Regions from separate parts of the Homo sapiens genome. Here all the other regions are linked to region 2. Evidence: fine-mapped expression QTL. A gene starts in region 2. Each other region holds a variant in brackets. All regions are shown on one strand. Distances are between the middles of the regions.

Region 1 (2,756 bases), 27 kb before region 2:
TGTTGCCAGGCTGGAGTACAGTGGCGCCATCTCAGTTCACTGCAACCTCCGCCTCCCGGGTTCAAGCGATTCCCCTGCCTCAGCCTCCGGAGTAGCTGGGACTATAGGCAGGCACCACCACGTCCAGCTAATTTTTGTGTTTTTAGTAGAGACGGGGTTTCACCATGTTGGCCAGGATGGTCTCGATCTCTTGACCTCATGATCCGCCCACCTTGGCCTCCGAAAGTGCTGGGATTACAGGTGTGAGCCACCGCGCCCGGCCTAGAGCCCAATCTTCTTGTTACCACCAATCTTCTTATTACCACCCATCCACCTTTTCCTATCACACAAGTTTTAACAGAATTGAAGCCACTTTGTATGATTTTTTTTTTTTTTTTGAGATGGAGTTTCACTCTTGTTGCCCAGGCTTGAGTGCAATGGTGTGATCTCGGCTCACCGCAACCTCCATCTCCTTGGTCTCAAGTAATCTGCCTGTCTCAGCCTTCCAAAGTGCTGGCATTACAGGCACTAGCCACTGCACCTGACCTAGCAGCCTATTTCATAACAGCAAAAAAGTGGAAGTAACACAAATGTCCATCAATTGATGAAAGGATAACTATAGGGCCGGGCACGGTGGCTGACGCCTGTAATCCCAGCACTTTGGGAGGCTGAGACGGGCAGATCACGAGGTCAGGAGATCGAGACCATCCTGGCAAACACAGTGAAACCCCGTCTCTACTAAAAATACAAAAAATTAGCCGGCCGTGGTGGTGGATGCCTGTAGTCCCAGCTACTAGGGAGGCTGAGGCAAGAGAATGGCGTGAACCCGGGAGGCGGAGCTTGCAGTGAGCCGAGATCGCGCCACTGCACTCCAGCCTGGGCGACAGCAAGACTCTGTCTCAAAAAAAAAAAAAAAAAAAAAAAAAAAAAAAAAAAGAAAGGATAACTAAAATGTAGTATATCCATATAATGTAATATTATTGAGCAATAAAAAAATTAAGCCAGGTGCAGTGACATGTGCCAGGAGTTTGAGTCCAGCCTAGGCAACATAGTGAGACCTTGCCCCTTAAAAAAAAAAAAAAAAAGAAAAAAGAAAAGAAATACTGGTACTTGCTACAAAATGGATGAGTCTTGAAAACCTCATGCTAAGAGATAGAGGCCAGTCACAAAAGGTCATATATTGTATGATTCCATGTATATGAAATGTCTTATAGACATAGATTAACGATTACCTAGGGCTGAGAGAGTGGGGAAAATGTGGAATGACTGCCAACGGATACAGGTGTTCTTTCGGAAGTGATGAAAATGTTTTAAAATCAATTGTGGTGATGGTTGCACAACATTATGAATACGCTAAAAGCTGCTGAATTGTATACTTTATTTATCTATTTATTTATTGACAAGGTCTCACTCTGTTGCCCAGGCTGGAGTGCATTTGCCTGATCTTGGCTCACTGCAACCTTGACCTCCTGGGCTCAAGGCATCCTCCCACCTCAGCCTCTAGAGTAGCTGATTACTACATGCTTGTCTAATAGTTGTATTTTTTTGTAGAGACAGGGTCTTATTATGTTG[C/T]CCAGGCTGGCCCCCAGCTCCTGGACTCAAGTGATCCTACCACCTCAGACTCCCCAAAGTACTGGGATTACAGGCGTGAGCTGCCTGGCCCAGCTGAATTGTCATTTTCATTTTACTTTTTTGAGATGGAGTCTCACTCTGTCACTGAGGCTGGAGTGCAGTGGCACCGTGTCAGCTCACTATAACCTCCATCTCCTGGGTTCAAGCAATTCTCGTGCCTCAGCCTCCCGAGTGGCTGGGATTACAGGCACCTACCACCATGCCCAGCTAGTGCTTTTTTTGAGACAGAGTCTCGCTCTATCCAGGCTGGAGTGCAGTGGCGCCATCTCGGCTCACTGCAAGCTCCGCCTCCCCAGTTCACGCCATTCTCCTGTGTCAGCCTCCCGAGTAGCTGGGACTACAGGCGCCCACCACCACGCCCGGCTAATTTTTTGTATTTTTAGTAGAGACGGGGTTTCACTGTGTTAGCCAGGATGGTCTCGATCTGCTGACCTCGTGATCTGCCCGTCTCAGCCTCCCAAAGTGCTGGGATTACAGGCATGAGCCACCACGCCCGGCCATGCCCGGCTAGTTTTTATATTTTTAGTAGAGGTGGGGTTTCACCATGTTGTCCAGGCTGGTCTCGAACTCCTGACCTCAGGTAATCCACCCACCTCAGCCTCCCAAAGTGCTGGGATTACAGGGGTGAGCCACTGCGCCCAGCTGTCATTTTTATTTTTATTTGTTTTGTTTTTGAGACAGATTCTCACACCGTTGCTCAGGCTGAAGTGCAGTGGCACAATCTCAGCTCACTGCAACCTCTGTCCCGGGTTCAAGCGATCTCCAGTCTCAGCCCCCAAGTAGCTGGGATTACAAGCGCCTGCCACCATGTCCGGCTAATTTTTGTATTTTTTGTTGTTATTGTTGAGATGGAGTCTCGCTCTGTTGCCCAGGCTGGAGTGCAGTAACGTGATCTCAGCTCACCGCAACCTCTGCCTCCTGGGTTCAAGCGATTCTCCTGCCTCAGCCTCCCGAGTAGCTGGGATTACAGGTGTGTACCACCATGCCCAGCTATTTTTTTCTATTTTTACTAGAGACGGGGTTTCATCATATTGGCCAGGTTGGTCTTGAACTCCTGACCTCACGTGATCCGCCTGCCTCAGCCCCTCAAAAGGCTGGGACGACAGGCATGACCCACCATGCCTGGCTCCCATTTATTTATTGAG
Region 2 (2,714 bases):
ATTGCTCCCCCAGCTTACCTCTCCACAAATCACTCTATTTCCTAGCCTGCCCTCCCACTAGGGCGGAGATGCCAGACCCAAGGGTCCAATTATCTGGCACCTCTTAGGAGTACCTCCGGTGCCTCAGGAGGGCCAACCTTCCCTGGCAACAGGCAGGAAAAGTTGAAGGTGGGGGGCAAGATGGGCCGCAATCAATACCTCCCTGCAAACAGGGTCCTCAGAAACAGCATGGGGGGGATGTCACAGGATAGGTAAGAGGCAATGGGCAGCAGGGAAGGGGGGGCAGCCCAAACCAGCCAATCACAACTCTATGGTGACCTGAGGGGGGGGGTCAAAAGTCCAGAGTCACTTCTGATTGGCTAACAACCTGGAATTCTGAGAATTTCAGCCCCCCCCAAACCTCTCCCCAATTAGCCTACCCCCAAAAAAACATACACATAAGCCACCCCCAGCGTCTCCTCCCCGTGTTTCTGGGCTGCTGCGCATTTACACAGTTGGGGAAAACGCTACCCGCCAGCCTGAGGCCCCGCGTAGCCCTTCCAGCCCCCGGCTTCCCCCATGCCATCGACGCCCCCCACACAAGTTCTCGCCAAACACGGGGTGAGGGGTCCGCAGGGACGGCTGGGCAGGAAGGGGCCGAGTGGCCGCACGCCCCACTCACCAGGACAGGCACAGCCCACTGACATCTTCACATCGCCCGCCTCTGGGGGCCCAGCCGAGTCACGGTGCCCGCCCCTCGCGGGGACAGGCCGGGCATGAGCCGCCGCCGCCGCCCGCGGCCCCCGCTGCGCTCGCCGCCGGCCCGGCCCGGCCTCGGCCCGGTGCGGGCGGCCCCTGGCTGCGGCGAGGGGCCTGTCAGGCGCGGAGCAGACAGGAAGGAAGCCAGGCAGGAAGGCGAGCGGCCTCTGCGTGTGTGCGCGCGGGTGTGAGTCCGCGGAGTGTGTGTCCGTGTGTGCGTGTGTGCGCGTGTGCGTGTGCGTGTCTGTGCGCTCCCGCCGCCGTCGCCGAGCGCCCCCCTCTCCGCCCTCGCGCTCGCGCTCCCTCGCGCCGGCGCCGGCTCCCCAGCCCAAGCCGGGCAGGGCCGGGCTTTATTAATATGCTAATTGTCCTGCTAGTGGGAGGGGAGAGCCGTGTCAAAGTGACCCGGGAGAGCGCGCAGCAAGCGACGACGTGCGTGCGCCGCGCGGCGGGCGGGCGGCGAGGGGCTGGGAGCGCTCGGGGAACGGCATGCATGTGACGCAGCTTTTAAAAAAGGAGACGGAGGCAGAGACCCCAGAGAGGGAGGGCGAAGGGGAGGGCTTGGAGGCGCAGCCGCGCGCTCGGTGTCCGTCCTCCGGGTGCCGCCGGATGGGGAGTCTGGCTGAGCCGGAGCGGGAGCCGCGGCTGGGGGAGGCGGAGCCGGGGTGGGCAGTGTGGTGTATCTCTCTCCACCCCGGGCCGCGCTCCGGGAGGGAAAAGGGACTGCAGACCCCCTGTCCGTGCTCCCTGCTGAGACGCCAGCCTTCTTCTGGAGGCCCCTTGTTTCGCGTCCCTACCCTAGGCTGGATGGGTAAAGAAGCATTCTCTTAATTCTTGTAGCAACCCCTCAACTCACCCCTTCCCTAAATTAACCACTCCTCCTTTGCCTGCGAAACCAGTTGGGACTAGAACTAAAAGGGTTAATTAAGTGGGGTCCCCGCCCTCCTCCGCCTAAGGGCTTGGGATCTGTGTTTTGCTGGGGGGAGGGGGCTGCGGAATGACCACCAGATTGGATTACGGAGGGGCGATAGGAGGCCATCCTTCCTTCTTGCAGACTGACGCATCAGTCAAGACACTCTCTTCCCTTCCCCCCTTTCTCCAGCCTTGGTGCCTTCACCTCCGTACCAACCGCCCAACCCCACCGCCTCCGACCCCCCTGCCTGGAAGCTGCTGTCCTTTGAGGGCTTCGGAGATGAGAACAGGAAACAGGCCCCTCCAGTGCCCCCTAACCCAGAGAGGCAGAGGCTGTGGGCCGTGGGGGGTTGGATGGGAGATGATGTGGATGGTCAATGTAAGGAACACTCCTTCCCCTGGGAGGAGCCTCCCAACCTTCAGTCACACTTCAAGGACTCCCCAACCCAGCCCTAGGAGGGGAGGGGCTCCATCTCCATCCCTTCCCAAAAGCTCAGCTTTAGCTGCCTCATAAACAGGAAATACCTATTAGCCAGGAGGAGGGAAGGGAGGGGAGCCGCCTGGAGTAGAGAGTTGACCCCCTCCCTCCTGGGGTCCCCAGCTGCTAGCTTTTCTTTCTTAAGTTTCAGTATGGGCTCCAGGGATAGACGATGGAGACTTGGACTAGTGTCTCCTCCCTAGGGCGTCTGGCCCTGACTGGGTAGGGGGTTCTCCTCTTTGTTACTTAGAGGGGTGTTGGTTGAGAAGGCTGTTTGGTTCCCTCACTCTGGCTCAGAGTCTGCACAGCTGGCTTGACTGGCTGGGGGAGGGTTACAAATGCGGAGGCTTAAAGTGTTTATGAGACCTCTTCTCTCCACCTTAGGTTTTTGCTGAGGGAGCATGAAATGATGGAACGGTGCAGAGTCCAGGGATTGAAAAGAAGGCCTGCCTAGGAATGGAGACCCTCCCCACCATGTGCTTAGGATGGGGGATAGGGGAGCTTGTACACTGTGGAGTCTCCCACCCCCAGGTTTCCCCATCTCCACCCCCACCAGGAGCAGAGAGGACCTGACTGAAGCCATCCA
Region 3 (2,756 bases), 41 kb after region 2:
ACCCCCAACTAAGGCAGTAGTCTCTAAAGCAACCACTAAACCACCTCCAGCAAAGAAAGCAGCAGAGAGCTCTTCAGACAGCTCAGGTAAGGCATATGGAGGCCCTCAGTTCAGTGAGATGCTCTCAGGCAGCTGCTAAGGGCTCCCCTGAATCCAATTTGGGGAGCTGTTGATTCCATCCCTTCTGTGTCTAGACTCTGACAGCTCTGAGGATGATGAAGCTCCTTCTAAGCCAGCTGGTACCACCAAGAATTCTTCAAATAAGCCAGCTGTCACCACCAAGTCACCTGCAGTGAAGCCAGCTGCAGCCCCCAAGCAACCTGTGGGCGGTGGCCAGAAGCTTCTGACGAGAAAGGCTGACAGCAGCTCCAGTGAGGAAGAGAGCAGCTCCAGTGAGGAGGAGAAGACAAAGAAGATGGTGGCCACCACTAAGCCCAAGGCGACTGCCAAAGCAGCTCTATCTCTGCCTGCCAAGCAGGCTCCTCAGGGTAGTAGGGACAGCAGCTCTGATTCAGACAGCTCCAGCAGTGAGGAGGAGGAAGAGAAGACATCTAAGTCTGCAGTTAAGAAGAAGCCACAGAAGGTAGCAGGAGGTGCAGCCCCTTCCAAGCCAGCCTCTGCAAAGAAAGGAAAGGCTGAGAGCAGCAACAGTTCTTCTTCTGATGACTCCAGTGAGGAAGAGGAAGAGAAGCTCAAGGGCAAGGGCTCTCCAAGACCACAAGCCCCCAAGGCCAATGGCACCTCTGCACTGACTGCCCAGAATGGAAAAGCAGCTAAGAACAGTGAGGAGGAGGAAGAAGAAAAGAAAAAGGCGGCAGTGGTAGTTTCCAAATCAGGTCTGTACCCAATGAACATGCCCTCTGGGTTTTGTCCCCCCAAATCAGGATGGGATATACTCTTTGAGAGTAGGGTAGTGAGAGGAGGCCCACCACTGGGCTTCCAGTTGTGGAAACTGGGAGGAAGAACAGGAAACTGGTTACCTTTTTTTTTTTTTATTAGAGTCTCACTGTGTCACCCAGACCAGGGTGCAATGGCATGATCACGGCTTGTGCAGCCTTAACCTCATGGACTCAGGTGATCTTTCCACCCCAGCCTCCTGAGTAGCCGGGACTACAAGCATGCACCACCATGTCTGGCTCATTTTTTTAACTTTTTATAGAGACAGAATCTCACTATATTGCCCAGGCTGATCTGAATTTCCTGGGCTCAAGCGATCCTCCTACCTTGGACTCCCAAAATGCTGGGGTTACAGTTGTGAGCCACTGTACTC[G/A]GCCTGAGTCTGGCTTTTTGTTTTGTAGGTTCATTAAAGAAGCGGAAGCAGAATGAGGCTGCCAAGGAGGCAGAGACTCCTCAGGCCAAGAAGATAAAGCTTCAGACCCCTAACACATTTCCAAAAAGGAAGAAAGTAAGTTGTCTCACTTTCTTCTCAGGAGCCAGCTCTTTAAAAGTAGAAAAATCTAGGATCATCTTGACAGCTCTGCCTGGCGTGACCTGGTACATGTGCCCATGTGTATCACTCAGGAGAACTGTTACATGACCACTCTGTCTTTAATTTCCTACTTCATTCTTCTGTAGGGAGAAAAAAGGGCATCATCCCCATTCCGAAGGGTCAGGGAGGAGGAAATTGAGGTGGATTCACGAGTTGCGGACAACTCCTTTGATGCCAAGGTGAGAGAGAGATCTGTGCCATTCTTGGGAGGGAGGATGGGTAGTGTCAGAGAGGACAATTCTTGGTTCAGGTTGGTGGGAATCTTCTCTGGGTTCAGGTTTCCTTGAGCAGGGAGTAGAAAGAATAAAGTGACAGGGCTCCAGCATGGTCCTCCTCTGTGTTAATCTCCCTCTCTACTTACCAGCGAGGTGCAGCCGGAGACTGGGGAGAGCGAGCCAATCAGGTTTTGAAGTTCACCAAAGGCAAGTCCTTTCGGCATGAGAAAACCAAGAAGAAGCGGGGCAGCTACCGGGGAGGCTCAATCTCTGTCCAGGTCAATTCTATTAAGTTTGACAGCGAGTGACCTGAGGCCATCTTCGGTGAAGCAAGGGTGATGATCGGAGACTACTTACTTTCTCCAGTGGACCTGGGAACCCTCAGGTCTCTAGGTGAGGGTCTTGATGAGGACAGAAGTTTAGAGTAGGTCCTAAGACTTTACAGTGTAACATCCTCTCTGGTCCTTTTCTGTGTTCCTAGTTTTGTACAGACTTGTTTTTGAGTGTTGAGTAGCAGGGACAAAATAAGGGAATGTTATTTTTTAAGAAAATTCATTTTCATTGTTGTCTCCTTCCTTTTCTGTGAAAGTCCTCATACTGAGAAATTTGTATATTTTATATTAAATCACTTACTATTGATTTTTGTTGTGATTTTCAAAGGTGGATTCCCACAGATAAAATCTTGGCTATTGCCCAAAACATAGTAAAGGGTCACGTGTGACTTTTTATAATAGGAAGAAAATTCTGCCTTTGTGAGTGCACATGTCCACATTTCATCCCTCCTTCCCTCAAAACCCTAGAGAGGGGCATTAAAGAATTGTTGATGTATATGCAATGTCTGTTAAGCATGCACTATGTATTTCATCCTCATTTATTGGGTCTGGGACTGAAGTTTTTAGCCAGCATGGACCTAACCTACTTTTTGGGATAAAATTCTCTGTTTTGTTACAGGCAAAATTCTGGTATGGCGTGAATGCCATGGGTCATTCTGAATATATTTTTTTCTGTAATTTTATCATTACACGATGTTTGCAATACGTGCTTTGTTTTTT

Direction of the effects. Alleles are on the strand shown, and positions count from the first base shown. SD is a standard deviation of normalised expression in the study named. Not every link is listed here.
With allele G in place of A in region 3, the expression in whole blood of the gene that starts at base 944 in region 2 is higher (large effect, 1.1 SD a copy in Lepik 2017).

What was found. PIP is the estimated chance that this variant, and not a neighbour inherited with it, causes the effect.
Region 1: its variant is the best candidate, but not a certain one, in a credible set for the expression of LDB1 in T cells (TOPMed, PIP 0.68).
Region 3: its variant is the best candidate, but not a certain one, in a credible set for the expression of LDB1 in whole blood (Lepik 2017, PIP 0.89).

Annotation. Positions count from the first base shown.
Region 1 is chr10:102,092,239-102,094,994 of GRCh38, forward strand. No RefSeq gene overlaps it. Among named protein-coding and RNA genes, the nearest start is that of LDB1, 27 kb to the right of the region's middle. The variant C/T (reference allele first, on the strand shown) is at 1,552.
Region 2 is chr10:102,119,425-102,122,138 of GRCh38, forward strand. It overlaps LDB1 (LIM domain binding 1), which reads right to left and starts at 944. Exons shown (of 11, transcript NM_001113407.3): 1 at 662-944. The coding sequence starts at 686. It also overlaps a transcript of PPRC1 not described here. RefSeq lists silencers at 584-653, 744-823, 884-1,183, 1,204-1,333 and enhancers at 830-1,581, 1,582-2,333, 2,334-2,714.
Region 3 is chr10:102,160,258-102,163,013 of GRCh38, forward strand. It overlaps NOLC1 (nucleolar and coiled-body phosphoprotein 1), which reads left to right. Exons shown (of 13, transcript NM_004741.5): 9 at 1-86; 10 at 195-836; 11 at 1,299-1,405; 12 at 1,576-1,668; 13 at 1,854-2,756. The coding sequence ends at 2,012. Among named protein-coding and RNA genes, the nearest start is that of NOLC1, 9.2 kb to the left of the region's middle. The variant G/A (reference allele first, on the strand shown) is at 1,271.